Linked DNA regions of Homo sapiens: regions 2 and 3 are each linked to region 1. Evidence: fine-mapped expression QTL. A gene starts in region 1. Each other region holds a variant in brackets. All regions are shown on one strand. Distances are from middle to middle.

Region 1 (10,494 bases):
CCTTGGCTTCCCACAGCACTGGGATTACAGGCATAAGCTACCATATCAATCCCCAGCTTTTAACTTAAAAGTACTATAAAACCATATTCAATCTACTCTTCATCAACTTTTTCTTTTTTTTGAGACAGAGATCTCACTTTGTTGCCCAGGCTGGAGTGCACTGGCTGTTCACAAATGGGATAATAGTGCACTGCAACCTGGAACTCCTGGGCTGAAGTGATCCTCAGGCCTTGGCTTCTCAAGGTGGGACTTCAGGTACATGCCACAGTGTCCAGCTTTCAGTCAATTATTAATGTTCTACCTGAATAGTGTCCCTACTAAAGTTTTTGAAAGTATTTTTCCATGAATAAGGGGACTGAAAATATGAATCAAATATAAAGCAATTTAAACTTGGACAAGTCACTTAGATTCTCTGTGCCTAAAATTTGTTTGTAAAACAGTGGAGCCTGGATTATTTGACCTCTCAGATCTCTTCTACCAACTCCACAGAATTTATTAACCTTATAAACTTGAGGCAGAATCACAGTGTAGTATACTATGTTTTCATGTTTTGCTTTATTTTAATGAGAATCATAAGCGAAAGAGGGCTGGATGTGATATATTGGAAGAGTAGCACAAGGCAGCAACTATGACCTAGGTTCTCATACTTTATCATTTCACCTTTATTTGTATATTATCTGTAAAACTGGTAAATAAAAATCTGCCATAGTTCCTATGGTTGTGGAGATTAAATGAAAGAAAATTTGATGTAAATGGTGAATCACTATATGAATGGGATCAATTTTTTTTTTTTTTTTTTTTTTTTTGTGGAGACAAAGTCTCACTCTGTTGCCCAGTCTGGAGTGCAATGGTGTGATCTTGGCTCACTGCAACCTCTGCCTCCTGGGTTCAAGCAATTCTCCTGCCTTAGCCTCCCAAATCGCTGGGCTTAAAGGCGTGCGCCACCACGCTCAGCTAAATTTATTTATTTTTTTTTGTGAGAAGGAGTTTTGCTCTTGTTGCCCAGGCTGGAGGGCAATGGTGCAATCTCAGCTCACCGCAACCTCCGCCTTCTGGGTTCAAGCCATTCTCCTGCCTCAGACTCCCGAGTAGCTGTGATTACAGGCATGCACCACCATGCCTGGCTAATTGTGTATTTTTAGTAGAGATGGGGTTTCTCCATGTTAGTCAGGTTGGTCTCGAACTCCCAACCTCAGGTGATCCGCCCGCCTCGGCCTCCCAAAGTGCTGGAATTACAAGCGTGAGCCACCGTGCCTAGCCTAATTTTTGTATTTTTAGTAGAGATGGGGTTTCACCATGATGGCCAGGCTGGTTTTGGACTCCTGACCTCAAGTGATCCACCTGCCTCGGCTTCCCAAAGTGTTGGGATTACAGGTGTGAGCCACTGCGCCTGGCCAAATGGAATCAATTTTTATCACTATTTTATTTTATTTTTTGAGATGGAGTTTTGCTCTGTCACCTAAGCTGGAGTGCAGTGGCGCAGTCGCAGCTCATTGTAACCTCTGCGTCCCAGGTTCAAGTGATTCCCCTGCCTCAGCTTCCAGAGTAGCTGGGACTACAGGTGCCTGCCAACACACCTGGCTAATTTTTGTGTTTTTAGTAGAAATGGGGTTTCACCATGTTGGCCAGGCTGTTCCCAAACTCCTGACCTCTGATGATCCGCCTACCTCAGCTTTCCAAAGTGCTGGGACTACAGTCGTGAGCCACCATGCCTCACCAAATTTTATTATTTTCTTTTTTGCAGGTTTACCTCAATGTATGATCTTCCAGAAACAGTTCTGAAACCTACAGGTTAATGACCTTGTATTAGCATAATATGGTTTGCTAATATTCACTTAATACTCATAAGTTTGTAGTTGGCAAAGCTGGAAATAGAACTCAGGTTCACTGAGTGTCATCAATGTTATTCTCATCAGATCTTGCTGTTTATTCTTTTTGAAACTGCTTATTAATTTGCTTTAAATATTAACAACACAGATACTGGATAATAGTAAATCATAAGAATTTTAAAATTTTGATGGTATCTCAACTGATCAGCTTTTCTTAAATTTTCTAGGTTTCCTCAGCACAGGGGAAAGCTTTATAGGTGGAAGGTGGAGGCCCTGTGACTTGCGCAGAAAAGTACCACTGTAATTTACTTTTATGGGCACCTAAGCAGGTTGCCCAGGGCAACTTGTAGATTTTGTTGTTGTTGTTGTTAATACTATCTCCTTCAGTCACTGAGAACTCTTTTTTATTTTTTTATTTTTTGAGATGGAGTTTTGCTCTTGTTGCCTAGGCTGGAGTGCAGTGGCGTGATCTTGGCTCACTGCAACCTCCGCCTCCCGGATTCAAGCGATTCTCTTGCCTCAGCCACCCGAGTAGCTGGGATTATAGGCATGCGTCACCACGCCCGGCTAATTTTGTGTTTTTAGTAGAGATAGTGTTTCTCCATGTTGGTCAGGCTGGTCTCGAACTCTTGAACTCAGGCGATTCGCCTGCCTCGGCCTCCCAGAGTACTGGGCCTTAAATGCTGGAATTATAGGCATGAGCCACCGCGCCCAGCTGAGAACTCTTCTTGTTATCAAATGACCCTCTTTACTACTGGTTCTAGAATTTCGTTCAGCTTTGGCTCAAAACATAATGCAGAAAACGAAATCTAGTAAAAACAGAAGACAAATTAGCTGATAAACTTTGTTGGCATAATTAGTACCATAAAATCTGGAAAAGCTAAATCTTAAATTAAAAATTTTTTAGATTTCCAGGATAATTCACAAATGTTTATAGATTCAGAAACAAAAGGTCCATTGCTTTATACTTTACATCATAGACAACCACTGCAGTTTTCTAATATGGGTTTCACCTTCTTCAAACCTGATATTCTTAAAATGTGGAGTTCAAACTGACTATAGTTAAGAACGAAACAAATAGCCAATACAAAGAATAATAAAAGGATGAGTTCAAATTATCTGCCACATGTCATCAACTTTTATTAAATGATAAAAAGGTTAATTAAAATTGTAAATGATTTTTCAGAAGAAATTACATCTTAAAATTGGCCTGTGAAAGTGGCTTGAAAGGTATAAAAATCTACCAGTAGCTGGTATTAGCTTTCTTAGTAATTTAATTTTCAGTTAGAGAAAGCCAGACCACTTTGACCTTTCGAAGTCCTTTGGTATAGATACATATACATTTAAAAAGATAAATGAAAACAAGCCATTGATTAATAATGCCCATCGCAGAAGCTGTAATTATAAAATTAAGATTTTTTGATGTCACTGTTGATGTTGAATATAGTTAATAGAAAAGCAAAAATAAAAAATAAAAAAGGTCTAATTTTGAGGCACTCTTTTGTCTCTGCTCAGGTCCACCGTCTTCCTTGCTAATGTTTACGTTTATTATTAATTTTTCCATTTATTTATTTACTTTTACCACAATTAGGGGACAGAGAATGAAACCTAAACTTTTTATTGCTTCTGTAAAGAGTGAATATAAATGTAAGATTTTTTTTTTTTGAGACGGAGTTTTGCTCTTGTTGCCCAGGCTGCAGTTCAGTGGCGCAATCTCGGCTCACTGCAACCTCTGCCTCCCAGGTTCAAGCAATTCTGCTGTCTCAGCCTCCCAAGTAGCTGGGATTACAGGCCCGCGCCACCTCTCCTGGCTAATTTTTTGTATTTAGTAGAGACGGAGTTTCACCATGTAGGTCAGGCTGGTCTCGAACTCCTGACCTCAGGTGATCCACCCGCTTCGGCCTCCCAAATTGCTGGGATTACAGGCGTTGAGCCCCGGCGCCCGGCCACCAAATCCTTTTTCAAAACAACTCCCTTCTTTGACACAGTGCAATTTAAATAAGTATACAATTAACAAAGTACGTTTTTCTTGTTCAAAACCATCACTGAACAGTTTGCAACAGTAGGGTATGAATGCATACAATCTCGATGGTCTTTACACCTTCAGAGGCTATTCGGACTTAAGGAAACGTGCATTTACAAGTGTAAATGTAAAAGCTCAGTAGTTGCCTTGTAAAGTGCTTTTCGGGGTTGTGGGGTTGGGGGTGGTAGGAGTAGGTGGTGCCTCAAATTATACTAGCGAATACCAACATTCCCAAACATCTAGCCCTCTGCCTAAACTCACCCGGTTGCGGTCTGTCATTTTCGCTCTTCTTTGTTAATTTTTTCGGCAAAGTCAGTTTTCATGCAGCAGATGGCAAGAAAGCCGGTGAACGCCTAGGGACGTGGCCTTTTAACCGCACCCAATTAAAGCAGCAAACAGAAGATGAATAGCTGGGTGGATCAGTATGTGTAAACCTATCCGTTTAATCCGGGGAGCTGTTTTCCCGGGTGAAACCACGAATTCTTTCTGGAGGTTGCAACTCGTAACCATAGCAACTGGAAGTGGTCGCCGGCTCCCGGATGTTGTGGGGATCTGCGGCCGCCTGGCCCAGCTTCCCGCAGCCGCCCGGCGGCGGCCTGCGCTCCACTTCGGGAGTGGTAGTTCTTCTCTTCACCGCTGCCGGGCAGGAGGCGCAGGCGGGACTACGCGTCACGGCATGCACTGCGGCGCCCAGCCGGTCACCGCCTGCCGGCTGCAGACGCCTGCGAGCAGGTTGTTTTTATAAGAGGCGTCATTGGCGCCCGAGCTGTGACCGCCGCCACTGGGGCAGCCAGCACAATCGGGCGGAGGTGGCGCTGCCCCTTCAGGTACTGTACTAGGCGGGCTTAGACCCCGGGAGGGGGTTTGTGCCGACTGTCTGAGTCCCTGGCCGACACGCTCGGCTCAGTAGAGGAGCAGTGGCGGGGTCCGCCTCCTAGGCTGGGGCTGCTCGGGCGGGGACTTGACGCCTGGTGTCAGCGGCCGCACGGGCGACCTCCTCGGGCCGTGCGCGAGTGCACAGCTCCGGAGGCCCGAGCCGACCCTGGGGCGTCCGGTCCGGTGGTCTTGCAGCCTCCAAACCCCGAGTGCTATACCGAACTGCGCGCCAAGGGTGGGAGAGCTGACGGCCTGGGCCACCCTTCTTCCTTCACTGGGCAGGCTTTGAGGTGCTTGTCGGTCTGGACTGATGAAAATCCATATGGTAAGATGTTATGTGCGTCACCCTGCCGGGTTTAATGCCAGCCTGTCTTTTGATGACATTTGAGCCCCCGTGATGTCAGGAATAGAAAGATTAAATATTAAATAATGCCCGGAGACTTCCGCTAGCACGCCAGCCTGATGATGATCAAATACCTCTCCATATCCTTCTCCAGTTCCAGTGGCCTCCTTTAGCTTTGGTCTCCCTAATCGATTTGTCCTCATTAGCAGCTGTCCCATGCAGTGCCTTGTACGCGTTGTTTATGTTTAGCACTATTGGGAGCGCCAAGTAAGGTATTTTATTGAGTGGTGAAGTTTGCACTGTTCTGCTCTACTTTTATTGAAAAACACAGTTGGGCATTCTTGTAGTTAGAATAGCTAACTATATAGTACTATGAATTTTAGATTTGTCTCCTCCAATCTACAGGATAGTGCTTGAAATATCGCTATTACTGCATCGTATCTTTTAAGATTAGAATCATATTGGGTCCCACACGTCTCAGGGGATATTTATCACACACATCCAGTGTGAATGGTTTACTTTTATTTTCTGAGTTCAGGTCATATAGCAGAAGATGGAGATGGTGAGGGTATTATTTTAATTCATATTTTTTTTTTTTTTGAGAGAGGGTTTCGCTCTTGTTGCCCAGGCTGGAGTGCAGTGGCGCGATCTCGGCTCACTGCAACCTCTGCCTTCCAGTTTCAAACGATTCTCCTGCCTCAGCCTCCCGAGTATCTGGGATTACAGGCGCCCGCCACCACGCCCAGCTAAATTTTGTATTTTTAGTAGAGACGGCGGGGCGGGGGGGGGGGTCTCAACGTGTCGGCCAGGCTGGTCTTGGACTCCTGACCTCGTGATCCGCCCACTTCGGCCTCCCAGAGTGCTGGGATTACAGGCGTGACCCACCGCGCGGGCGTTAATTCATAATTTTTAACCTTTTACGCTGAGGGCGGAATTTCAGTCAAAAAAGCTGATTAAAAATCAGCCCAAATACAATTTAAAGGTGTGGGAAATACTCCTTCTTAGATGAAAACAGTTTAGAAAATAGTGTAATTGCAATTTTGTAAACCATGGAACAAAAAGTGAACATAACTTCTTTTAGAAATGACTTAAAGGGTCCAGAGCGGTGGCTCAGGCTTGTAATCCCAGCACTTTGGGAGGCCCATGCAGGTGGATCACCTGAGGTCAGGAGTTCGAGACCAGCCTGGCCGACACGGTGAAACCCCGTCTCTACTAAAAATACAAAAATTAGCCTGTAAACCCAGCTACTTGGGAGGCTGAAGCAGGAGAATTACTTGAACCCGGGAGGCGGAGGTTGCAGTGAGCCACAAGATCTGGCCACCGCACTCCAACCTGGGTGACAGAGTGAGATTATCTCAAAAAAACAAAAAAAAAAAAACAAAAAAAAAAAAAGAGAAAAAGAAAGAAAAGAAATAAAGGATATTCACAGTTATAAAAGTGTAGATAGTGAAACTAGAAATGATTTTTCTTGTACTTTCCTGTATTTTTCAAGTTTTCTGTAGAAAAAACTTTTAAAAAAGGATGCAAGTATTAACAGCACTTTGAGAGTTTCTATATCATTTTTTTCACTTTCTAGTGGAAAGCCCCACCCTTATGCAAAAAAAAAAAAAAAGCAGCAATTCCAGTTATGGACTCTATGAACATTACTTTAAAAAGAAAATAAAGGCCTAGAGCAGTGGCTCATGCCTGTAATCCCAGGACTTTGGGAAGCCAAGGCAGGCGGATCACTTGAGGTCAGGACTTCAAGGCCAGCCTGGCCAACGTGGCAAAACCCCGTCTCTACTAAAAATACAAAAATTAGCTGGGCATGGTGGCGGATGCCTGTTATCTCAGCTATTCAGGAGGCTGAGGCAGGAGAATCGCTTGAACCCGGGAGGCAGAAGTTGCAGTGAGCCGAGATCATGCCACTGTACTCTAGCCTGGGTGACAGAGTGAGACTGTCTCAAAAACACCAAATAAGCAACAACAGTAAAAAACACAGGCAAAGTCCCTGTTGCTGCATCTGTAGACTATATGAATTTAAGTGTAAATTATTTGGAGAGTAGGGACAATAAATGAAATAGTTGGACTCGAAGAAAATAACAGATCCGACAATTTGTAGCATTTGTAGATCTCATTTTATTTTTTGGAGATGATGTCTTGCTCTGTCACCTAGTCTGGAGTGCAGTGGCCTGGACACGACTTACTGCAGCCTCCTGGGCTCAAGTGATCCCAACACAGCCTCCCACATAGCTGGGGCTACAGGCACATGTCACCAGGCCTAGGCCTGGCTATTACTTTTTTTGAGACAGAGTCTTGCTCTATTGTATGGTGGTTCAGTCTCGGCTCACTGCAACCTCTGCTTCCTAGTAGCTGGGATTACAGTGTGATTCAAGCTGAGTTCAAGTGTGATTCTCCTGCCTCAGCCTCCCAGTAGCTGTCACATGTCACAGACATGTGACACCATGCCCCACTAAATTTTTTTTTGAGACGGAGTTTCGCTCTTGTTGCCTAGACTGGAGTGCTATGGCAAGATCTCAGCTCACCACAACCTCCGCCTCCTGGTTTCAAGTGGTTCTCCCGCCTCACCCTCCCGAGTAGCTGGGATTACAGGCATGTGCCACCATGCCCGGCTAATTTTGCATTTTTTAGTAGAGACAGAGTTTTTTCCATGTTGGTCAGGCTGGTCTCAAACTCCCGACCTCAGGTGGTCCGCCTGCCTCAGCCTTCTAAAGTGCTGGGATTACAGACGTGACCCACTGCCCCTGACCTAATTTTTGTATTTTTAGTAGAGACTGGGTTTTGCCATGTTAGCCGGGCTGGTCATGAACTCCTGGCCTCAAGTGATCTGTCCGCCTTGGCCTCCCAAAGTGCTGGGATTACAGGCACGTAGCTGGGATTACAGGCACACACCACCATGCCCGGCTAATTTTTGTATTTTTAGTAGAGATGGGGTTTCACCATAATGGCCAGGATGGTCTCGATCTCCTGAATGCGTGATCCGGTTGCCTGGGCCTCCCGAAGTGCTGGCATTACAGGCGTGAGCCACCGCACCTGGCCCTAATTTTAAAATTTTATGTAGAGGCAGGGTCTCGCTATGTTTCCCAGGCTGGTCTCTTTGAACTCCTGGGTTCAAGCGATTTTCCTGCCTTAGCCTCCCAGAGTGCTGGATACAGGCATGAGAGCTCCATGTCTGGCCTGTACATCCCATCTTTTGATCTGGTTTCTTTTCACTTTGTACAGTTAAATCAGAGGTGAAAGTACTTAGCTTTTCTTCACTTAAGCCTGGAAAATCTTAAACTTGTCAACATTGAATCACGTTCAGAACCATGTTTTATATGTCTGATATTTTGGCTTATGTCTATTTTTGTTTTTATTTTTTGTTATGGTTATGTTGGATATGGACTGGTAAGTAGTATAATCAATCATTAGCCCACATTTTGCTTTCTGTTGTAAAGGGCTACATTGTTCTTCCACAGTAATATACAGTACATTTTTCTTTTTTTTGGCTACTATCAGCCCTTAAAAATTAAGGGGGTTTACCTTAACACCAAGTGTCCATTAACACTGGATAAAATATCTATTCTAAAGTGTTTTACAAAAAACACTGGTAACACGTTGTTTTTCAGGTTGTGGTGTTCATACTTTATTTTCTTAGGTTGTCTTCTTTGGAGCTTGCCTACTCCAAATGTCAATTTCTTTTCAATATTTTTTACCTTATAATTTTGTATATTCTGTGTACTGAGTTGGCTCAATATGTTATTAGGCTTTGGGTCTATTCACAGGGCATAAGAAAAATTCATAATTGATTAACATGTCTGATTTACTAACTCATTCCACAGTATTATTGTATGGGTTGTATAATTATATTCTTATGCAAGTTAAAGAAAGACTTTTAAAAATTAGGTGCATATGAACTGCTAAAATCATGGAAGTAGTAGTTTTTGAACATGTTAAGAACATGAACACAGCAGCAAGGCCTGTTAAGTCCAAGGTACTTTAAACAAAAAATGCAGACTCATCTAACAGTGCAGAACTGCTGGAGGCTGAATTATGTTTGTGTTTCTTTGTGGTGAAGATGAGGAAGTTGCAGTATTGTAAGTGATAAAGGATTACATTTTCACAAATTTCCTTCCTGACAGTTCCATAATTGTAACTAGACTAAAACACTTGGTTTCAAAGGTCATTTGCAATGTATTGCATCAGATAAACTTGGCCATATTTTCTCTCAATTTGAGTTCTAAGATGAAATTCAGCCCTATGATATGGGAAGGATTGTAATTAAGTGATAAATAAAGGGATTTTTTCCCCCAAAGGGTATTTAATGTGTGGAAACCTCTTTAAGGGTCTATAGAATTACCTGAGGAAGTATTAGAAAATAAGAAGTGGGAGTTAAGTATTTTTTTCTGTCATCACAGGAAGCCTGAAATCTTTTTTTTTTTTTAAGTACTTATCCAAATCACTATTCTTTTAAAATCTTACAAAATCTTACTTCTGGTTCATATTGCCAGCATGTTGAAATGTAAAAAGAGCATTAGGTTGGAAATCAGAGGATTTTTAATGATGTTGAGGAAGTTATTATTTATAATTTTCTGTTCGTTTTCATTTGGAATTTGTAAATAATAGCAAGCTGCCTTTATGGGGGTATTTGTGAAGATTAAATCAGATATGAAAATGAAATTGCTTTGTAAGTGGTGGAGTTATCTACTCATATGAAGTATTATTGTACTAAGTGCATTTACATAAAGCACTTATATGTTTGAAGTGTGATGCCTTGATGTGATAAATACTTTTTGACTGGGAAGTTTGATGAAGAAAAAAAGTCAAATGGGTTATTCATTTGATTTCTTGGTAGAGATTGGTGGCTTTTTCCAGACTGAAGGAAACCTGGCTCCTCTCCTGACTGTGACTTTGCACTCTGTTGCATCAAATGTCCTGAAACTGCAGTGTACTTCTGTGGTTGAGCTTTTAATTTTGGTTTTGATTTGTTTTAATCTCACTTCTATAAGTGTAAGAATGGTCATCAGTCTAGTTTGACAATAGGAAGTAGCTATTGTTTTTAATATTCTCAAATGGATCTTTAAGTTATTTCATGAACAATGAGACTACATTGAATGTGAAATCTCAGGTCCTCTGAGAAATACATTTCATGTTTAAAGCATTAGTCTTTGAGCCAAAGAAATAATGGAGTTTAGATTTTTCCTTCTGGGGAAGTTATCTCTGGCTATGAGAGGATCTGACCCTTGAGATTAACTTCAAGTTAGGTTGATATATAGAATATTTACGATAAAGAAAAAGTATTTTAGAAACAAGTACATATTGGCTGGGTGTGGTGGCTCATGCCTGTAATCCCAGCACTTTGGAAGGTCGAGGAGAGTGGATCACCTGAGGTCAGGAGTTTGAGACCAGTCTGGCCCAACATGGTGAAACCCCGTCTCTACTAA
Region 2 (10,494 bases), 62 kb before region 1:
ATCTCTCAGCAAAATTATTTAACACACATATATGACTTGCTTATATATTTTTTGTTTGTTTGTTTTGTGTTTGAGACGAAGTCTGTCTCTGTATCCCAGGCTGGCGTGCAGTGGCGCGATCTTGGCTCACTGCAACCTCCACTTCCCAGGTTCAAGTGATTCTCCTTCCTCAGCCTCCAGAGTAGCTGGGATTACGGCGTGCGCCACTGCACCTGGCTAACTTTTTGTATTTTTAGTAGAGACGAGGTTTCACCATGTTGGCCAGGCTGGTCTTGAACTCCCAACCTCAGGTAATCCGCCCACCTCAACCTCCCAAAGTGCTAGGATTACAGGCATGAGCCACCGCCCCTGGCCTTATGACTTGCTTATATTTTGCTAAGCTTATTCATTTATGTTTTTCTGGTGATTGCTGATGAAATTAACGTTTCCATTGTAGTTTCTAATTATTTATTGCCAGTTTGTAGGAAAGTAAGTTTGTTTTTATAAGTTTGTATAAGTTGATCTTTTTTTTTCTTTTGAGATGGAGCCTCACGCTGTCGCCCAGGCTGGAGTGCAGTGGCATAATCTTGGCTCACTGCAACCTCCGTCTTCTGGGTTCACGCGATTCTTCTGCCTCAGCCTCCTGAGTAGCTGGGACTACAGGCATGCACCACCACGCCTGGCTAATTTTTATATTTTTAGTAGAGACAAGGTTTCAACATGTTGGCCAGGCTGATCTTGAACTCCTTACCTCATGATCTGCCCACCTCGGCCTCCCAAAGTGTTGAGATTATAGGCGTGAGCCATCGCGCCCAGCTAGTTGATTTTATATGTGACTGCCTTGCTGAACTTACTTTTGGTTTGTCAGTTTATTATTTTGGTTATTTTAAGTAGTGTACTATTATTTGCAAATGATGCAATTCTATCTCCTTGTAATCTATATTTGTATTTCTTATTTTTAAAAGTTTATCATTTAGGTTCTGACCTCTAGGAAAATAGTAAAACATTAGGTATACTTGCCTTAGTGATTTTGCTGGAAATATTTCTAATATTTCTTTTATTTTTTATTTTTATTTTTTTGAGACGGAGTCTTGCTCTGTGACCCAGGCTGGAGTGTAGTGGCGTGATCTAGGCTCACTGCAACCTCCACCTCCCAGGTTCAAGAGATTCTCCTGCCTCAGCTTCCCGAGTAGCTGGGACTACAGTTGTGTGCCACCACGCCCAGCTAATTTTTTTATTTTTTGTAGAGATAGGGGTTTTGCCATGTTGGCCAGGCTGGTCTCGAACTCCTGACCTCAGGTGATCCACCTCCCTCGGCCTCCCAAAGTGCTGGGATTACAGGTGTGAGCCACTGCGCCCGGCTATTTCTAATATTTCGTCATGAAGTATAACATAGTCTTGGTCCTTCTATCCAGCTTATAAATTTTTATTTCTTATTTTTATTCCCAATATCAACTGACATTTTGGCATACACTGACATCATAATGCTTTTCTCTATTGATTTCCTAATACCTTAAGTAAGAAAGACCCTATTTGATCAAGGTGTATTATAATTTTAATATTTTCCTAGGTTAAGTTACCCCTATTTGATTAAGGTGTATTATAATTTTAATATTTTCCTAGGTTAAGTTACCCCTATTTGATTAAGGTGTATTATAATTTTAATATTTTTCTAGGTTAAGTTTGCATATATATATATATACACACACACATATATATACACACATATATATACACACATATATATACACACATATATACACACATATATATACACATATATATACACATATATATACACATATATACACATATATATACACACACATATATATATATACACACACACATATATATATATATATATATATATTTTTTTTTTTTAGGTTTTTTTTTTGTTTGTTTTGAGGTGGCCTCTCACTCTGTTACCCAGGCTGGAATGCAGTGGCGCAGTCTCGGCTCACTGCAACCTCTGCCTCTTGGGTTTAAGCGATTCTCATGCCTCAGCCTCCCGAATAGCTGGGATTACAGGTGTGCGCTACCACACCTAGCTAATTTTTGTATTTTTAGTAGAGATGGGTTATCACCATTTTGGCCAGGCTGGTCTCTAACTCCTGACTTCAAGTAATTTGCCTGACTCGGCTTCCCAAAGTGTTGGGTTTACAGGCGTGAGCCTCCATGCCGGGCTGAGTTTGCTAATGTTTTATTTACAATTTTTGCATGTAATTCACAAGTGGGATTGGCTTATAAAGAACAATGCCTTGTTGACCAGACATTCATTCTAGATTAAAAGAATTATACATTTCCTCTTCTTCAAAAATTTAGTGTAGGAACTATTCATTATTCTCGTATTAGTTTTATTTGCTGTCTGCATTAAACTAATAACCTGTAGTAAATGGCATCCTTTTTTGAACAGTACAAACACCTAAAACCCAATTTGTTTATTTTATTTTTTTTGAGAAGTCTCACTGTGTCACCCAGGCTAGAGTGCAGTGGGGCGATCTTGGCTCACTGTAACCTCTGCCTCCGAGATTCAAGTGATTCTCCTGCCTCAGCCTCCCAAGTAGCTGGGATTACAGGTGTATGCTACCACACCCACCTAATTTTTGTATTATTAGTATAGATGGGGTTTCACCATGTTGGCCAGGTTGTTCTTGAACTCCTGACCTCAAGTGATCAACCTGCCTGGGCCTCCCAAAGTGCTGGGATTTCAGGCATGAGCCACTGCCCCCGGGCCTCCAGTCCTTTATGTACGATGATTATTATTTTAGCCTTCTGAGTTTTTCTGTTACTGCATATTCCTCCGTGTGTCTTCCCTGTATTAGATGATTTTTCTTTGAAAGACCTTCAAGGATTGTTTAATATTTGTCGGTGTCTGTGTTAAATTGTGTGTTTCCTATATTAGATGATTTTTATTTAAAATATCTTTAAGAGCTGGGCACGGTGGCTCACGCCTGTAATCCCTGCACTTTGGGAGGTTGAGGCGGGTGGATCATTTGAAGTCAGGAGTTTGACACCAGCCTGGCCAACATGATGAAACCCTGTCTCTACTAAAAATACAAAAATTAGACGGGCATGGTGGTACACACCTGTAATCCCAGCTACTCAGGAGGCTGAGGCAGGATAATTGCTTGAACCCGAGAGGCGGAGGTTGCAGTGAGCGAAGATCGTGCTACTGCACTCCAGCCTGGGTGACACAGCAAGACTCCATCTCAAAATAAGTAAGTAAATAAATAACAAAATATCTTTAAGAATTGTTGGCTGGGCGTGGTGGCTCACGCCTGTAATCCCAGCACTTTGGGAGGCCGAGGCGGGCAGATCACGAGGTCAGGAGATCGAGACCATCCTGGCTAACACAGTGAAACCCCATCTCTACTAAAAATACAAAAAATTAGCCGGGCGTGGTAGTGGGTGCCTGTAGTCCCAGCTACTCGGGAGGCTGAGGCAGGAGAATGGCATGAACCCGGGAGGTGGAGCTTGCAGTGACCCGAGATCGTGCCGCTGCACTCCAGCCTGGGCGACAGAGTGAGACTCCATCTGAGAAAAAAAAAAAAAAAGTTTAACATTTGTCCATCTCTTTATGACATCATAAAAAATATATATTTGGTCCCTGCCTCTTGTTATTAGCATAGAGCTCCTAAAACCCATGTAATTTTCTGAGTGATGGGGTGCTAGGTTCATCTTTTGTTAAATTATTTGGATTTTGACCCAGGTTCCTGACACAGAGCTCCTAATCCCTTGGAATTTCCTATGTAATAGGAAAATCTTTTGTTCTAATGAGGCAACTCTTGATGGGCTCTTGGGTGGTGGCTGGCCACCAGAAAGACCAAGCTATGACTAGTTGTCTGGAACTTGCAGCACCCCTCCCCATCATTTTGATAGGGGCTGGAGACTGACTTAATAATCAATCATGCTGGGTCCACTGGCTTACGCCTGTAATTCCAGCACTTTGGGAGGCCGAGGTGGGAGGATCGCTTGAGCCCAGGAGCTCAAGACCAGCCTGGGCAACATAGATAGTGAGACCCTGACTCTAAAAACAACAACAACAAAATTAGCCATTCGTGGTGCTGCGGGCCTGTGGTCCCAACTACTTGAGAGGCTGAGGTGAGAGGATCACATGAGCCTAGGAAGTGGAAGCTACAGTGAGCTAAGGTTGTGCCACTGCACTCTCCAGCCTGAGTGACAGAACAAGACCTTGTCTCAAAAAAAAAAAAAAAAAAAAAATCCGCCAGGCATAGTAGCTCATGTCTGTAAATCCCAGCACTTTGGGAGGCTGAGGTGGGTAGATCACTTGAGCCCAGGAGTTCAAGACCAGCCTGGGCAGCAAGGGAAAACCCCATCTTTACAAAAAAATAACATAAAAAATTAGTCAGGCTTGGTGGCATGTGCCTGTGTCCCAGCTACCTAGAAGGCTGAACTGGAGGATCGTTGGAGCCCAGGAGGTTGAGGCTGCAGTGAGCCATGATTGCGCCATTGCACTCCAGCCTGGGTGACAGAGCAAGACCCTGTCTAAAAAAAAAAAAAAAACCCAGTCATGCCTGCTAGATAAAACCTCCATAAAATTCCTGTAACTATGAGGTTTGGAGAACTTCTGGGTTGCTGAACACTTGGAGGGAGAAGGCATGGAAACTCTGTGCTCCTTCCCCGGTATCTTTCCCTAGACATCTCTTTCATTTGCCTCTTCCTGATTTGCATCTTTTTATTAAAAATGGGTAAATATGGCTGGGCGCGGTGGCTCACGCCTGTAATCCCAGCACTTTGGGAGGCCTAGGCGGGTGGATCACCTGAGGTCAGGAGTTCAAGATCAGCCTGGCCAACATGGTGAAACCCTGTCTCTACTAAAAATACAAAAATTAGCCAGGCGTGGTGGTATGTGCCTGTAGACCCAGCTACTCAGGAGGCTGAGGCAGGACAATCACTTGAACCTGGGAGGCGGAGGTTGCAGTGAGCCGAGATCGTGCCACTGCACTCCAGCCTGGGCAACGGAGTGAGACTCCGTCTCAGAAAAAAAAAAAAAGGGGTAAATATAAGCGAGGTATTTATCTGATTCCTGTGAGCCATTGAAGCAAATGGTCAAACCTGAGGAGGGGGTTGTAGAAACCCCCAACTTATAGCTGATTGGTTAGAAATATGGGAGTCCTGGACTTATGATTGGCATCTGTGTGGAGACTGTCTTATGGAATTGAGCCCTTAACCTGTGGGATCTAATGCTAACTCCGGGTAGATAATGACAGAACTGAATTAGAGGACACATAGCTGATGTTAGAGAATTGGTAAGCATAGGCCGGGCGCAGTGGCTCACGCCTGTAATCCCAGCACTTTGGGAGGTCAAGGTGGGCGGATCACGAGGTCAGGAGATCGAGACCATCCTGGCTAACACAGTGAAACCCCGTCTCTACTAAAAATATAAAAAAAAAATAAATTAGCCAGGTGTGGTGGCAGACACCTGTAGTTCCAGCTACTCGGGAGGCTGAGGCAGGAGAATGGCATGAACCCAGGAGGCGGAGCTTGCAGTGAGCCGAGATTGCGCCACTGCACTCCAGCCTGGGCGACAGAGTGAGACTCCGTCTCAAAAAAAAAAAAAAAAAAAAAAAAAAGAATTGGTAAGCATAGGAGAAACCCACAAGTTTCGTGATGGAAGTGACCTATGGAGTGTTGTGAGAGTATATAAGAGGCATAAACAGTTTGTTTTTTCTCTGTACACTCTGTTTTTCTTTTTCTTTCTTTCTTTCTTTTTTTTTTGAGAGGAGCCTCGCTCTTGTCCCCCAGGTTTGAGTGCAATGGCTTTATCTCGGCTCACTGCAACCTCCACCTCCCAGGTTCAAATGATTCTCCTCCCTCTGCCTCCCAAGTAGCTGGGATTAAGGGCCTGCCACCAAGCCCGGCTAAATTTTGTATTTTTTAGTAGAGACAGGGTTTCACCATGTTGGCCAGGCTGGTCTCGAACTCCTGACCTCAGATGATCCACCTGCCTCAGCCTCCCAAAGTGCTGGGATTTCAGGCGTGAGCCACCGCGCCCGGTCACTGTACACTCTGTTTTTCTTTGGTACATGTAGTCTCTTTTCTCTTTATCATAAGCTTTGTGTTATTTTCTTCTTCATGTTTTTCTCTTCATTGTAGTTCCTTCTGTTACCTACTCTGTGAAGCCTTTCTTGGTTTCTCCTCTTCATCACTACTCTCTGAAGAGCTGGACTATTTCTGTCTCTAATATAGCTTATTATAAATTATCATTATACCTATAGTTCCCTTAACTACATCTTGGCTATAATACCAGAACTTTCCTGTTATTTTTTGTTGTAAGAACAGTCTCATTTTTGGTAATTAAGACTTAGTCTTATGCATTTTAAAAACTTCATGTAAAATTCATTCTTCTTGCAGGGAGTATGATGGGTGAGGGTGTCTGACTCTCCACATATTCTCCCTTTTTCATGTGTTGGGGCAGAGAGTGAAAAAAGGCAGACATATAATTAGGCTGGGTGAAGTCGTCTTTTAGGTTGTGGCTTCCTCTCTAACATGGAGTGTTCATCATGCCTTATTGTGAGGCATTTAAATTTTGTTTCATTGCCATGTGTAGATTCTTCCTGGTTCAATCTGTTGGCAGCTTACTGGCAACTCTCTGAACTAAGAATATATAGTAATAATTAGCATATTTTGTGCTTAATTTAAGCCTGAGGTAAAATTGGGACTACAGGAAATTTTCATTCAGTGTCCCGTGAAATTTATTTTAAAGTCAGCATCTCACAGGAAAATAATCAGTCTTCTAGAAGAGAGTATTATGTCATGTAGATATTACAGAGCACCTTTCAGTGCACAGGTTTCATACTCGTAATGTTAAATCTCTATTTTAAAGTAATACAACATTTAGGGACCTTCATCCTAGCATATCCATAGTCTAGAACCACTTCAGATGTCCTATTTAAATGTAAATTAATTTAAATGTACATTAATGAAACTTAAATAACATTAAAAATTCAGTTCCTGAGTCTCAGTAGCCACATTTGAAGTACTTAATTAGCCACCTGTGGCTAGTGGCTACTATATTGGATAGCACAGACATTTTGATCATTGAAGTAAGTGCTTCTCTAGTGGATAGAGGTAAGAAATTTTTCTTACCATAGGAAAGTCAGATACATGGAGTCAATCATGTACACCAACTAGGTACTCTGTTTCACAAGGTTTTTTTTCTTGCCC[A/G]TGTGAGGGAAGTTTGAAAGGCAGAAAAGTTGCCACACACCTGTACAAGATACTGCTTTCAAATTCATCTGATATTTAGCTCTTTGAAAGTGTCAGACAACTACTAGTGCAAACATAGGTTTTGCAGCAGGATTAAGACTTCAAATATTTCCACCCAGCAGAGACAGACCGTCTTGTTCATCCTTCCTATTTCCTTTTCTACTGTTCCCTCTTCCTTCAGTCCTTAGGACTGAAGGGTTGGCACAACTTCGGTTGACAGGGTAAGACTTGGGATAAGTTGAAAAGCAAATGTTTGAATATATGTGTTGGGATGTGTGTGTGTGTGTGTGTGTGTGTAGATTTTGAGAGAAGTGGCTTAACTCCTAGAATAATAAATTTCTATTATTTTTTCTACCAAGCCCTTAGGTATCATCTAATTGAATGCCTGCCCACATTTTACATATAAGTAAACTGAGGTTGGAGAAAGTGATTGCCTAAGACCATACAGCTAATGGTAGATCTGGGACTAAAATCTTTGTTCCATGACTCCAACACCAATGGTTTTTCTCCTGAATCATTTACCTTTCCCATTTTAATTCATAATTCACTACTACCTATTGTTACAAATACAATGGCAAGAGTTTAGAGGTATGAATAACTAATTATTGTAATGAATTTCTCATTTAAATAAATGTTGCTTTTATGTATTTTAAAGAATTTGGTAATTGCAATTGTTATAGATTGAAGAAGAAGAGAGGAAAAAAATAGAAGATATGAAAGAAAATGAACGGATAAAAGCCACTAAAGCATTGGAAGCCTGGAAAGAATATCAAAGAAAAGCTGAGGAGCAAAAAAAAATTCAGAGAGAAGAGAAATTATGTCAAAAAGAAAAGCAAATTAAAGAAGAAAGAAAAAAAATAAAATATAAGAGTCTTACTAGAAATTTGGCATCTAGAAATCTTGCTCCAAAAGGTAAAATGATTAAGAATTTCTTGAGTAGTGAGTCCTGTTGGTGAAGTATATATGACGCTTTTCTTTTTTTGTAAATCTATTCACAGCATTAGGTTACTGTTTTGGCACATTGAGAATAAGCAATTCAGTACAAAGACTAAAGTAAAGACATTTCTTCTTTCGGGGATAATGAAGTTTTCTAATAAAATGAGCAAGGATTCGTTCAAGGATTCGAAAAGAAGAGTGTCTTCTTTGCTTGTGTGCTTTCTTTTGAAATTTACAAAGATGTTGTTAAATAAGTGCTTAACTCAGGCCCAAAAAGACTTGGAGTGGACTAGCAATGTCAGAAGCATTCATTTATTCCATTAGAGATAAGAAACTAGGAATTTCATTAAAAGACCTTTTCCTCACATCACTTAGGAAAATGAGTACTATAAGCAGACTTACTCTACAGCAAATAAAGATTGCTTCTAGCTTTTAATCTTGGTGTATTCAAAAACAGATAAATTAATATAATTTTTTTTTTTGAGACAAGGTCTGGCCCTATCGCCCAGGCTGGAGTGCAATGGTGTGATCTGAGCTCACTGCAGCCTCTGCCTCCCCAGCTCAAGCCATCCTGCCTTAGCCTCCCAAGTAGCTGGGACTACAGGCATGTGCCTCAATGTCCAGCTAATGCTTTTTTGTATTTTTTGTAGAGACGAGGTTTTGCCATGTTGCCCAGGCTGGTCTTGAACTCGTGAGCTCAAGCAATCTGCCTGCCTTGGCCTCCCAAAGTGCTGAGATTGTGTGCATGAGCCACCATGTCCAGCTGATACAAATATAATTCAGTTTTTGTATGTGTGTGTTTTTAAAATTATTATTTCAGTAGTTTTGGGGAAACAGGTGGTGTTTGGTTACATGTATAAGTTCTTTAGTGGTGATTTCTGAGATTTTGGTGGACCCATCAACCAAGCAGTGTACACTGCACCCAATGTGTAGTCTTTTATCCCTCACCCCTGCACCCTTCCCCCCTAGTCCCCAGGCCCATATCATTCTTATGCCTTGGCATCCTCATAGCTCAGCTCCCATTTATGAGTGAGAACATGGGCCAGGAGCAGTGGCTCATGCCTGTAATCCTAACACTTTGGGAGGACAAGGCGGGCAGATCATCTGAGGTTGGGAGTTCGAGACCAGTCTGACCAATATGGAGAAACCCCATCTTTACTAAAATTACAAAATTAACCAGGTGTGGTGGCACATATCTGTAATCCCAGCTACTCAGGAGGCCGAGGCAGGAGAATCGCTTGAACCTGGGAGGCGGAGGTTATGGTGAACCGAGATCGTGCCATTGCATTCCAGCCTGGGCAACAAGAGCAAAACTCTGTCTCAAAAAAAAAAAAAAAAAAAGTGAGAACATATGGTATTTGGTTTTCCATTTCTGAGTTACTTCATGTAGCATAATCGTCTCCAACTCCATCCAGGTTGCCGAGAATGCCATTATTTTATTCCTTTTTATGGCTGAGTAGCATTCCATGATTGTATGTGTGTCTGTGTGTGTGTGTGTGTGTGTGTGTGTGTATATATACACCATATTTTCTTTATCTTCTCATTAGTTGATAGGCATTTAGGCTAGTTCTATATTTTTGCAATTGCAATTGTGCTGCTATAAACATGAGTGTGCAAGTGTCTAATGACTTCTTTTTCTCTAGATAGATACCCAGTAGGGGGATTGCTGGATCAAATGGCGGTTCTACTTTTCGTTCTTTAAGGCATCTATCTCCACACTGTCTTCCATAGTAGTTGTACTAGTTTACATTCCCACCAGCAGTGTAAAAGTGTCCCTTTTCACCACATCTACACCAACATCTGTTATTTTTTCATTTTTAAATTATGGTCATTCTTAACAGGAGTAAGGTGGTATCGCATTGTGGTTTTGATTTGCATTTCCCTAATAATTAGCGGTGTTGAGCATTTTTTCATGTTTGTTGGACATTTGTTTGTTTGTTTATTTATTTTGAGATGGAATTTCGCTCTTGTTGCCCAGGCTGGAGTGCAATGGCACGATCTCGGCTCACCACAACCTCTGCCTCCCAGGTTCAAGCGATTCTCCTGCTTCAGCCTCCCGAGTAGCTAGGATTACAGGCATGTACCACCATGCCTGGCTAATTTAGAGATGGGGTTTCTCCATGTTGGTCAGGCTGGTCTCGAACTCTTGACCTCAGGTGATCCGCCTGCCTCAGCCTCGAAAAGTGATGGGATTACAGGCATGAGCCACCACACCTGGCGGGACATTTGTATATCTTCTTTTGAGAATTGTCTATTCATGTCCTTAGCCCACTTTTTGATGGGATTGTTTGTTTTGTTCTTGCTGATTTGTTTGAGTTCCCTGTACATTGTGGATATTAGTCCTTCGTC
Region 3 (10,494 bases), 50 kb before region 1:
CTTTCAACTTTTCACTGTTTATTATAATATTGGCCATGGGTTTGTCAAAGATGGCTTTTATTACCTTAAGGTATGTCCCTTCTGTGCCCATTTTGCTGAGGGTTTTAGTCATAAAGGGATGCTGGATTTTGTCAAATGCTTTGTGTGTGTGTGTGTGTGTGTGTGTGTGTGTGTGTGTGTGAGACAGAGTCTCACTGTGTTCCTTAGGCTGGAGTGCAGTGGCATGATCTTGGCTCACTGCAACCTCTGCCTCCCAAATTCAAGCAGTTCTCCTGCCTCAACCTCCCCAGTATCTGGGATTACAGGTGTGCACCACCACACCTAGCTAACTTTTTGTATTTTTTAGTAGAGACAGGGTTTCGCCATGTTGGCCAGGCTGGCCTCAAAACTCCTGACCTCAAATGATCCGTCTGCCTCGGCTTCCCGAAGTGCTGGGATTACAGGCATGAGCCACCACACTCGGCCTCAAATGCTTTTTCTGCATTTATTGAGATGATTGTATGATTTTTGTTTTGACTTCTGTTTATGTGGTGTATTATATTTATTGATTTTTTGTGTGTGTATGTTAAACCAGCCCTGCATCCCTGGTATGAAACCCACTTAATTATGGTGTATTACCTTTTTGATATGCTGTTGCATTTGGTTAGCTAGTATTTGGTTGAGGAGTGTTACATCTGTGTTCATCAGGGATATTGTTCTGTAGTTTTCTTTTTTTTTTTTTTGTTATGTCCTTTCCTGGTTTTGGTATTAGGGTAGTACTGGCGTTGTAGAATGATTTAGGGAGGATTTCCTCCTTATCTTTTGAAATAGTTTTAATAGGATTGGTACCAGTTCTCTTAGAATGTCTGTTAGAATTCAGCTGTTGGGCTGGGCACATGGCTCATACCTGTAATCCCAGCCTTTGAGAGGCCAAGGCAGGCAATCTCCTGAGGTCAGGAGTTCAAGACCAGCCTGCCCAACGTGGTGAAACCTCATCTAACTAAAAATACAAAAATTAGCAGGGTGTGGTGGCATGTGCCTGTAATCCCATCTACTCGGGAAGCTGAGGCAGGAGAATCGCTTAAACCCGGAGATGGAGGTTGCAATGAGCCGAGATCTCACCACTGCATTCCAGCCTGGGGGCAAGAGAACAAGACCCTGTCTTAAAAAAAAAAAACCAGCTGTGAATCCATCTGGTCCTGGACTTTTTTTAGTTGGCCATTTTTAAATTACTGTTTCAATCTCCCTACCTGCTATTGGTCTTTTCAGAGTTTCTATTTCTTCCTGGCTTAATCTGGGAGGATTGTTTAATTCCTTCTAGGTTGAGGAATTTATCCATCTCCTGTAGGTTTTCTAGTTTGTGTGCACAAAGGTATTCATAGTAGCTTTGAATGATCTTTTGTATCCCTGTGGTATTTGTTGTAATTTCTCTCATTTCATTTCTAATCGAGCTTATTTGGATCTTATTCTTTTCTGGGTTAATCTTACTAATGGTCTATCAGTTTTGTTTGTCTTTTCAAAGAACCAGCATTTTGTTTAATTTTTCTTTTGTATTTTTTTCTTTCAGTTTCATTTAGTTCTGCTCTGATCTTTGTTATTTCTTTTCTTGTGCTGGGTTTGGGTTTGATGTGTTCTTTTTTCTCTAGTTTCTTGATGTGTGAGCCTAGATTGTCTGTTTATGCTCTTTCAGACTTTTTGATGTAGGCGTTTAGTGCTATGAACTTTCCTCTTAGCACTGCTTTTGCTGTATCCCAGAGGTTTTGACTGGTTGTGTCACTATTATCGTTCAGTTCAAAGAATTTTAAAATTTCCGTCTTGATTTCATTGTTGACCCAAAGATCATTCAGGGGCAGGTTACGTAATTTCCATATATTTGTATAGTTTTGAGTGTTCCTTTTGAAGTCAATATCCAGTTTTATTCCACTGTGGTCTTAGAGAGTATTTGATATAATTTTGATTTTCTTAAATTTACTGAGATGGGCTGGGCGTGGTGGCTCACACCTGTAATCTCAGTACTTTGGGAGGCCTAGGTGGGTGGATCACGAGGTCAGGAGATCGAGACCATTCTGGTCTCTAACCAGAGACCAGAATCTGGTGGCTAACACGGTGAAACCCCATCTCTACTAAAAGTACAAAAAATTAGCCAGGCGTGGTGGGGGGCACCTGTAGTCCCAGCTACTCGGGAGGCTGAGGCAGGAGAATGGCATGAACCCAGGAGGCGGAGTTTGCAGTGAGCCGAGACTGCACCACTGCACTCCAGCCTGGGCAACAGTGCAAGACTCTGTCTCAAAAAAAAAAAATTATTGAGATGGCTGGGCGCAGTGGCTCATGCCTGTAATCCTAGCACTTTGGGAGGCCAGGGAAGGTGGATCACCTGAGGTCAGGAGTTTGAGACCAGCCTGGCCAACATGGTGAAACCTTGTCTTTACTAAAAATACAAAAATTAGGCTGGTGTGGTGGCGGGGGCCTGTAATCCCAGCTGCTTGGGAGGCTGAGGCAGAAGAATCACTTGAGCCCAAGAGGTGGAGGTTGCGGTGAGTCGAGATCACGCCACTGCACTCCAGCCTGGGTGACAAAGCGAGGCTCTGTCTCAAAAAAAAAAAAAAATTATTGAGACTTGTTTTGTGTTCTATCATTTGGTTTATCTTGGAATGAATGTTCCATGTGCTGATGAAAAGAATGCATATTCTGCAGTTGTTGGGTAGAATATTCTGTAAATATCTATTAAGTCCATTTGTTCTAGGATATAGTTTAAATCCATTATTTCTTTGTTGACTTTCTGTCTTGATTACCTGTCTAGTGCTGTCAGTAGAGTACTGAAGTCCTCCACTATTATTGTGGTGCTATCTCATTTCTTAGGTCTAATAATAACTGTTTTATAAATTTGAGAATTCCGGCCGGGCGCGGTGGCTCATGCCTGTAATCTCAGCACTTTGGGAGGCCGAGGCGGGTGGATCACGGGTGGTCAGGAGTTTGAGACCAGCCTGACCAACATGGTGAAACCCCGTCTCTACTAAAAACACAAAAATTAGCCGGGCGTGCTGGCACGCACCTGTAATCCCAGCTACTCAGGAGGCTGAGGCAGGAGAATTGCATGAATCTGGAGGTGGAGGTTGCAGTGAGCCGAGACTGCACCACGGCACTCCAGCCTGGGCGACAGAGTGAGACTCTGTCTCAAAAAAAAAAA[T/AT]AAATAAATAAGTAAATAAATAAATAAATAAATTTGAGAGTTCTAGTGTTAGGTGCATAAATATTTAGGATTGTGATATTTTCCTGTTGGACTAATTCTTTTATCATTATATAATGTCCTTTTTTATCTTTTTTAACTGTTGTTGCTTTAAAGTCTGCTTTGTTTTGTATAAGAATAGCTATTCCTGGCTAGGCGCAGTGGCTCACGCCTGTAATCCCAGCACTTTGGGAGGCCGAGGCGGGCAGATTACGAGGTCAGGAGTTTGAGACCAGCCAGGCCAACATGGTGAAACTCTGTCTCTACTAAAAATACAAAAATTAGCCAGGCGTGGTGGCGCGTGCCTGTAGTCCCAGCTACTTGGAAAGCTAAGGCAGGAGAATCGCTTGACCCCAGGAGGCAGAGGTTGCAGTGAGCCAAGATTGCACCACTACACTCCAGCCTGGGCAACAGAAGGAGACTCTGTCTCAAAAAAAAAAAGAAAGAAAGAAAGAAAGAAAAAAGAATAGCTACTCCTGCTGACTTTGGTGTTCATTTGCATGGAATATCTTTTTCCACCCTGTTTATGAGTCCTTATATGTTAGGCAAGTCTGTTAAAAGACTTACTTGGTTGGTTGATTTTTATCCATTTGACATTCTGTATCTTTTAAGTGGAGCATTTAGGCCATTTACATTCAATATCAGTATTGAGATGTGAGGTACTGTTCTATTCATCATGCTAGTTGTTGCTGTACCTTATTTTTTTTCATTGTGTTATTGTTTTATAGATCCTATGAGATTTATGTTTTAAGGAGGTTCTATTTTGGTATATTTTGAGGTTTTGTTTCAATATTTAGAACTCCTTTTAGCATTTATTGTAGTGCTGGCATGGTAGTGACAAATTCAGCATTTGTTTGTTTGAAAAAGACTTTATCTCGCCTCTGGTTATGAAGCTTAGTTTCACTGGATACAAAACTCTTAGCGGATAATTATTTTGTTTAAGGAGGCTAAAGATAGGACCCCCATCCCTTCTGGCTTGCAGGGCTTCTGCTAAGAAATCTGCTGTTAATCTGATAGGTTCTCCTTTATAGATTACCTGGTGCTTTTGCCTCACAGCTCTTTTTTTTTTTTTTTTTGAGACAGAGTCTTGCTCTGTCACCCAGGCTAGAGTGCAGTAGCGTGATCTCGGCTCACTGCAACCTCCAACTCCCGGGTTCAAGCAATTCTCCTGCCTCAGCCTCCTGAGTAGCTGGGATTACAGGCACCTGCCACCACGCCTGGCTGATTTTTGTATTTTTAGTAGAGATGGTGTTTCACCATCTTGGTTGGCCAGGCTGGTCTCGAACTCCTGACCTCGTGATCCACCCGCCTTGGCCTCCCAAAGTGCTGAGATTACAGATGTGGGCCACTGTGCCTGACCTTGCCTCACAGCTCTTAAGATTCTTTCTTTCATCTTTACTTTAGACAATGTGATGACTATGTGCCTAGGCAATGATCTTTTTGCAATGAATTCCCCGGGTGTTCTTTGAGCTTCTTGTATTTGGATGTCTAGATCTCTAGCAAGACCATGGAAGTTTTTCTTGATTATTCCCTCAAGTATGTTTTCCAAACTTTTAGATTTCCCTTCTTCCTCAGGAGCACCAATTATTCTTATGTTTGCTTGTTTACATAATCTCAGATTTCTTGGAGGCTTTGTTCATTTTTTAAAATTCTTTTTTTCTTTGTCTTTGTTGGATTGGGTTCGTTTGAAAGCCTTGTCTTTGATCTCTGAAGTTATTTCTTCTACTTGTTCAAATCTATTGTTGAAACTTTCCAGTGTATTTTGCATTTCTTTAAGTGTGTCTTTCATTTCCAGAAGTTTTGATTATTTTTTCTTTATAATATCTATTTCTCTGGAGACTTTTCCATTCATATCCTCCTTTTTTTAAAAATTTCTTTAAGTTGATTTTCACCTTCCTCTAGTGCCTTCTTGAGGAGCTTAATAATCAACCTTCTGAATTATTTATCTGGCAATTCACAGATTTCTTCTTAGTTTGGATCCATTGCTGGAGAGCTAGTATGATCTTTTGGGGGTGTTACAGAACCTTGTATTGTCATATTACTAGAATTACTTTTCTGGTTCCTTCTCATTTGAGTAGACTGTTTCAGTGGTAAGATCTGGAACTCAAGGGCTACTGTTCAGATTCTTCTGTCCCATGGGTGTTCCCTTGATGTGGTGCCCTCCCCCTGCCACTAGGGATGGGGCTTCCTGAGAGCCAGACTGCAGTGATTGTTATTGCCCTTCTATTTCTAGCCACCCAGTTGGGCCCCAGGCTGGTGCTGGGGAATGTCTGCAAAGAGCCCTGTGATGTGATCCACAGGTCTCCCAGCCGTGGATACCAGCACCTGTTCTGGTGGTGGCAGGTGAGTGAAGTGGATTCTGTTGGAGTCTTTTGTTGTAATTTTGTTTAGTGCACTTCAAGTACTGGTTATGTAAGCAGTGAAGTTGTCACGTGGACAGATTCAGGACCTCTGGCTAGACAGGGTGTTGCAGGAAGTGGAATTAGCTGTTGTTTTCTCCTTCTTTGGAGCAGGGTTGTTCTGTTATGAGTTGCTATGGTGGCTTGAGTTCGTTGGGCTCCAGCCAGGAGGTGGCACTTTCAAGAGGGCACCAGCTGCAGTATAGAAGAGAGATATAATCTTGATGTTGGCCGGGACAAGTACTCGGGTTTCTCAGGTGATGGGCAGGGCCATAGAGCAGGTAGAGAAAACCTTGCCCCATCAGGTGGGGGCAAGGTTAGTTGGGTCTGGGCTCAGGCTCCCCTTGGGTGGGGCTTGCTGTGGCCACAGTGGGGGTGGAGGGGATTCTCAGGCCAATGGAATTATGTTCCCAGGGGCATTATGGCTGCCTCTGCTGTGCTATACAGGTCACCAGGGAGGTGGGGGAAAGCTGGCAGTGACAGGCCTCACCTAGCTCCCAGGCAGCCACCAAGGCCAGTCTCACTCTGGCCATGCCACCCCAACCGCACTGCGTTTATATCCAGGCAGTTGGTGAGCAGGGCTGAGATCTTGCCCCAGACTATAAGCCTTGCCACTGAGAAAGCAAGAGGGCTGTTAGGCCTCACCAGTCCCTGCCTGCCCACACTATTGGCTGTGGCTTCTGCACTCGCATCTGTACTTCCCATTTGCCCCCTCTGCCACCAATTTCTGCTTAGGAAAATTCCTGCTCAGTCAAAATTATTACAAAGTTCAGCTACAAGCTTCCTTCACCCTGTGGTCCTGCCCCAATTCCACTGGCTGCCTTCCCGTCTCCAAGGACCTCTGTGAGATCACGCCAGGAATGGCTTCCTTGGACTCCAGCTGGGGATGGAAGTACCTATAGGGCTCTTCCTGCTGCTTCTTCTACTTTCATATTTTGCTCAGCTACCTAAATCTATTTCAGCTCAGGGTAAAGTTAAATCCTTCCCCTGTGATCTGGATTTTCAGGTTCCCCAGTGGGGATGTATGTTCAGAGACTGACCTTTTCTTCCCTCACACTTTGGGAACTCACGGTTTTTCAGCTGTTTCATGGCATTTGCAGCAGCGAACCACTTCTTTCAAAGGGTCTGTGAATTCTTTCAGTTTTCCTACAGTGTTTCTTGCGGTGTTCCTGAAGTGATTCTTGGAGTAAAAGTTCGCATTGTGAGTCTCCAGATGCTGTTCTGTCCATCCAGGTGGCAGCTGCATGTTAATCCTGTCTCCGATCTGCCATTTTCCCTCCTATCTCCCAATGAATATAATTCTATACTGAAAGCTACGAGTTTGGTTTTATCTAATTTTAGAATATTAAACTTTGTTTTGGATGCATTTTCCGCCGGATGCAGTGGCTCACGCCTGTAATCCCAGAACTTTGAGAGGCTGAGGCGGGCAGATCACCTGAAGTCGGGTGTTCAAGACTAGCCTGACCAACATGGAGAAACCCTGTCTCTACTAAAAATACAAAACTAGCCGGACGTGGTGGTGGGTGCCTGTAATCCCAGCTACTCGGGAGGCACTGAGGCAGGAGAATCGCTTGAACCCAGGGAGGTGGAGGTTGCAGTGAAGCGAGATCTTGCCATTGCACTCCAGCCTGGGCAACAAGAGTGAAACTCCATCTCAAAAAAAAAAAAAAGAAATATTTAGTATTTTCCTTACATAAGTCATTATTGAATTCCTATAAATTTAACATTTTAGTGTAAAATCACATATATAATAATAATAATTAACATTTATTAGGTGACTACTATGTGCCAGGGGATTTTATTGCTTGGGTCACTCAGTCTTCACAACACTTCAGTCTAAGTGCTGCTATTCTTATTTTAGAGGAAATAGATGTTCAGAAAAAAAAAATAACTATGAATAAGTAAACTTGTGGGATTTGAACCCAGATCTGGTCTGCATCTGAAACCTGTGCTATTTCCACCAGGTCATATGTCTTTACAACTTTAACAGTGAGGCTTGGCATATTGAAAAGTCATTTAGAGCCTGGGCATGGTGGCTAACGCCTATAATCCCAGTACTTTGGGAGGCCGAGGTGGGCAGATCACCTGAGGTTAGGAGTTCCAGACCACCCTGGGCAACATGGCGAAACCCTGTCTCTACTAAAAATGCAAAAATTAGCCAGGTGTGGTGGCATGCGCCTGTAGTCCCAGTTACTCAGGAGGCTGAGGCAGGAGAATCACTTGAACCCAGGAGGAAGAGGCTGCAGTGAGCCAAGATCGCGCCACTGCATTCCAGTGTGGGTGACAGAGTGAGACCCTGTCTCAAAACAACAAAAACAAAAAAAAGTCATTTAGATTGAATATATATATATATATATATATATATTCAATTTGCTAATATTTTATAAGCAGTTGTCACATTTATCTTCATATTGAGGTTCAGTTATATTTTTCTTTCCTCATACTGTTCTTGTCTAGATTGTATACCAAATTGTACCAGACCTATATACTATAGAGCGTTTTTCTTTTTCTACTATTTGAAACAATATAGTTAGATAAGAGAAATACCTGTTGTTTTAAGGCTTAGTAAAACTTCCCCTAAAACTGTCTAGGTCTGGAGTTTTTTTATGGAGGTTTTTTTAAAAAAAAAAAAAGATTCAGTTTCTATAATAGTTATTGATTATTGAAATTTTCCAAAGTCAATTTTGGTAGTTTGTCTTCTAAATTGTGCATTTTATCTATTCAAATTCATTTTCATAAAGTTTTTATTTACTTATCTGTACTTTATCTATAATTATATAATTTATTAATTTCTAATATTGTTCTTTTTTTTGAGACAGGATCTCACCCTGTCACCCAGGATGAAGTATAATGGATCTAGCTTGATGCTTAATAAAGTAATCTATCCTTTGTTTCTGGTTGTTTTAAAATTCTTTCCCTTGGTATATTATGGGTTCATTAGTATAAGTTCAATTTTATATTTATTTATCTCATAATATCATAACTTGGAGCATACTGTCACTCAGAGAACTTTGTCATTCATCAATTCTGGGAATTTCAAAACTATTGTCTTCAAATATTACCTTCTTGGCTGGTAATTTACCTTCTTGGCTCATGCCTGTAATCTCAGCACTTTGGGAGGCTGAGTTGGGCGAATTACTTGAGACCAGGAGTTCGAGACTTGCCTGGCTAACATGGTGAAACCCCATCTCTACTAAAAATACAAAAATTAGCTGGCTGTGGTGGCACATAGCTGTAATCCCAGCTACTTGGGATACTGAGGCATGGGAATTGCTTGAACCCGGGAGGCAGAGGCTGCAGTGAGCCAAGATCGTGCCACTGCACTCTAGCCTGGGTAACAGAGTGAGACTCTGTCTCAAAAACAAAAACAAAAACAAACAAATATTACATTATTGTATTCTCTTGTTTTCAATATATATTTTCAAATTACACAGATGTTTTTCTTTTTTTTTGAGACAGAGTCTTGCTCTGTTGTCCATGCTGGAGTGCAGTGGCACGATCTCAGCTCACTGCAACCTCCACCTCCTGGGTTCAAGCAATTCCCCTGCCTCAGCCTCCTTAGTAGCTGGGACTACAGATGTGCACCACCACACCAAGCTAATTTTTGTATTTTTAGAAGACACGGGGTTTCACCATATTGGCCACGCTGATCTTGAATTCCTGACCTCAAGCGATCTACCTGTCTTGGCCTCCCAAAATCCTGGGATTACAGGCGTGAGCCACCATACCTGGCCAACTTTCTTGTATTCTCTTTATCTTCCTCAGCTATTTTCTGTATAATATCCTCAGATCTATCTTCTAGTTTATAAATTTTCTTCAACCATGACTAATTTTATGTTATACTTGTCCAAGATGTTTTTAATTTCAGTGACAATATTTTTCATTTTGAAAGTTCTGTTTTTTGGCCAGGCGCTGTGGCTCATGCCTGTAATCCCAGCACTTTGGGGGGCCGAGGTGGGTGGATCACGAGGTCAGGAGATGGAGACCATCCTGGCTAACCCGGTGAAACCCCGTCTCTACTAAAAGTACAAAAAATTAGCTGGACGTGGTGGTGGGTGCCTGTAGTCCCAGCTACTCAGGAGGCTGAGGCAGGAGAATGGCGTGAACCCGGGAGGCAGAGCTTGCAGTGAGCCGAGATCGCGCCACTACACTCCAGCCTAGGCGACAGAGCAAGATGCTGTCTCAAAAAAAAAAAAAAAAAAAAGAACTGTTTTTTTTTCACACCTCTCTGTTCTTTGTCACTAGCTTCTTAGTTTTCATTATTGATGTTAGCCTGTCTTTACTGGCTTTAAGTAAGTATGTTTAAAATGATCAATCTCTTTCAGATTGTTGTGCTATTTCAAAGTCTTGGGGAGCCAGTCGTCTTATTTGTTGTGTCTGCTGATTGTTCCTCATACTGGATTGTTTCCTCTTGTGAATTGTGCTTTTTTGCCTGACCACTAATCTTCTGCAAAAACTTCTTAGTGTGTATGTATGAGGAAATATCATATATTCTTATTTGCAAAAGACTTGTTGATGAGGAATACCTGGAGCTTCCATTTCTTACAAGAGACATTTTTTCCAAGCTTCACTTTCTAAGATTAGTGAGCAGAGATCGTATAAGCATCCTTTTCACTAAGAGTGATGCCCACTGGGCACGGTGGCTCATGCCTGTAATCCCAGCACTTTGGGAGGCCAAGGTGGGTGGCTCACGAGATCAGGAGTTCGAGACCAGCCTGGCCAACATGATGAAACCCGTGTCTACTAAAAATACAAAAAAATTAGCTGGGCATGGTGGTGCACGTCTGTAATTCCAGCTACTCAGGAGGCTGAGGCAGGAGAATCGCTTGAACCCGGGAGGTCCTACCCTTCTATGATTCTAGTTTCATTTCCACCTCCCCACCTCTGTACCTA

Alleles and levels. Positions count from the first base shown, and alleles are read on the strand shown. Sizes are in standard deviations (SD) of each study's normalised expression. Not every link is listed here.
For the expression in skeletal muscle of the gene that starts at base 4,405 in region 1, allele A in region 2 goes with a lower level than allele G (small effect, 0.36 SD a copy in GTEx).

Evidence for each region. PIP is the estimated chance that this variant, and not a neighbour inherited with it, causes the effect. A credible set is the group of variants that fine-mapping cannot tell apart.
Region 2: its variant is the best candidate, but not a certain one, in a credible set for the expression of PIERCE2 in skeletal muscle (GTEx, PIP 0.51).
Region 3: its variant is the best candidate, but not a certain one, in a credible set for the expression of PIERCE2 in whole blood (INTERVAL, PIP 0.59).

What each region holds. Positions count from the first base shown.
Region 1 is chr15:55,402,406-55,412,899 of GRCh38, reverse strand. PIERCE2 (piercer of microtubule wall 2) reads right to left here and starts at 4,405. Exons shown (of 2, transcript NM_001198784.2): 1 at 4,114-4,405. The coding sequence starts at 4,131. CCPG1 (cell cycle progression 1) reads left to right here and starts at 4,541. Exons shown (of 9, transcript NM_001204450.2): 1 at 4,541-4,679. All of the region lies in intron 8 of DNAAF4-CCPG1 (DNAAF4-CCPG1 readthrough (NMD candidate)), which reads left to right. RefSeq lists enhancers at 4,162-4,361, 4,412-4,681, 5,042-5,321, 9,055-9,349.
Region 2 is chr15:55,464,557-55,475,050 of GRCh38, reverse strand. DNAAF4 (dynein axonemal assembly factor 4) reads left to right here. Exons shown (of 10, transcript NM_130810.4): 5 at 7,890-8,121. It overlaps DNAAF4-CCPG1 (DNAAF4-CCPG1 readthrough (NMD candidate)), which reads left to right. Exons shown (of 16, transcript NR_037923.1): 4 at 7,890-8,121. Among named protein-coding and RNA genes, the nearest start is that of DNAAF4-CCPG1, 29 kb to the left of the region's middle. The variant A/G (reference allele first, on the strand shown) is at 7,171.
Region 3 is chr15:55,452,860-55,463,353 of GRCh38, reverse strand. The region is part of intron 5 of DNAAF4 (dynein axonemal assembly factor 4); the gene reads left to right. All of the region lies in intron 4 of DNAAF4-CCPG1 (DNAAF4-CCPG1 readthrough (NMD candidate)), which reads left to right. Among named protein-coding and RNA genes, the nearest start is that of DNAAF4-CCPG1, 40 kb to the left of the region's middle. The variant T/AT (reference allele first, on the strand shown) is at 3,167.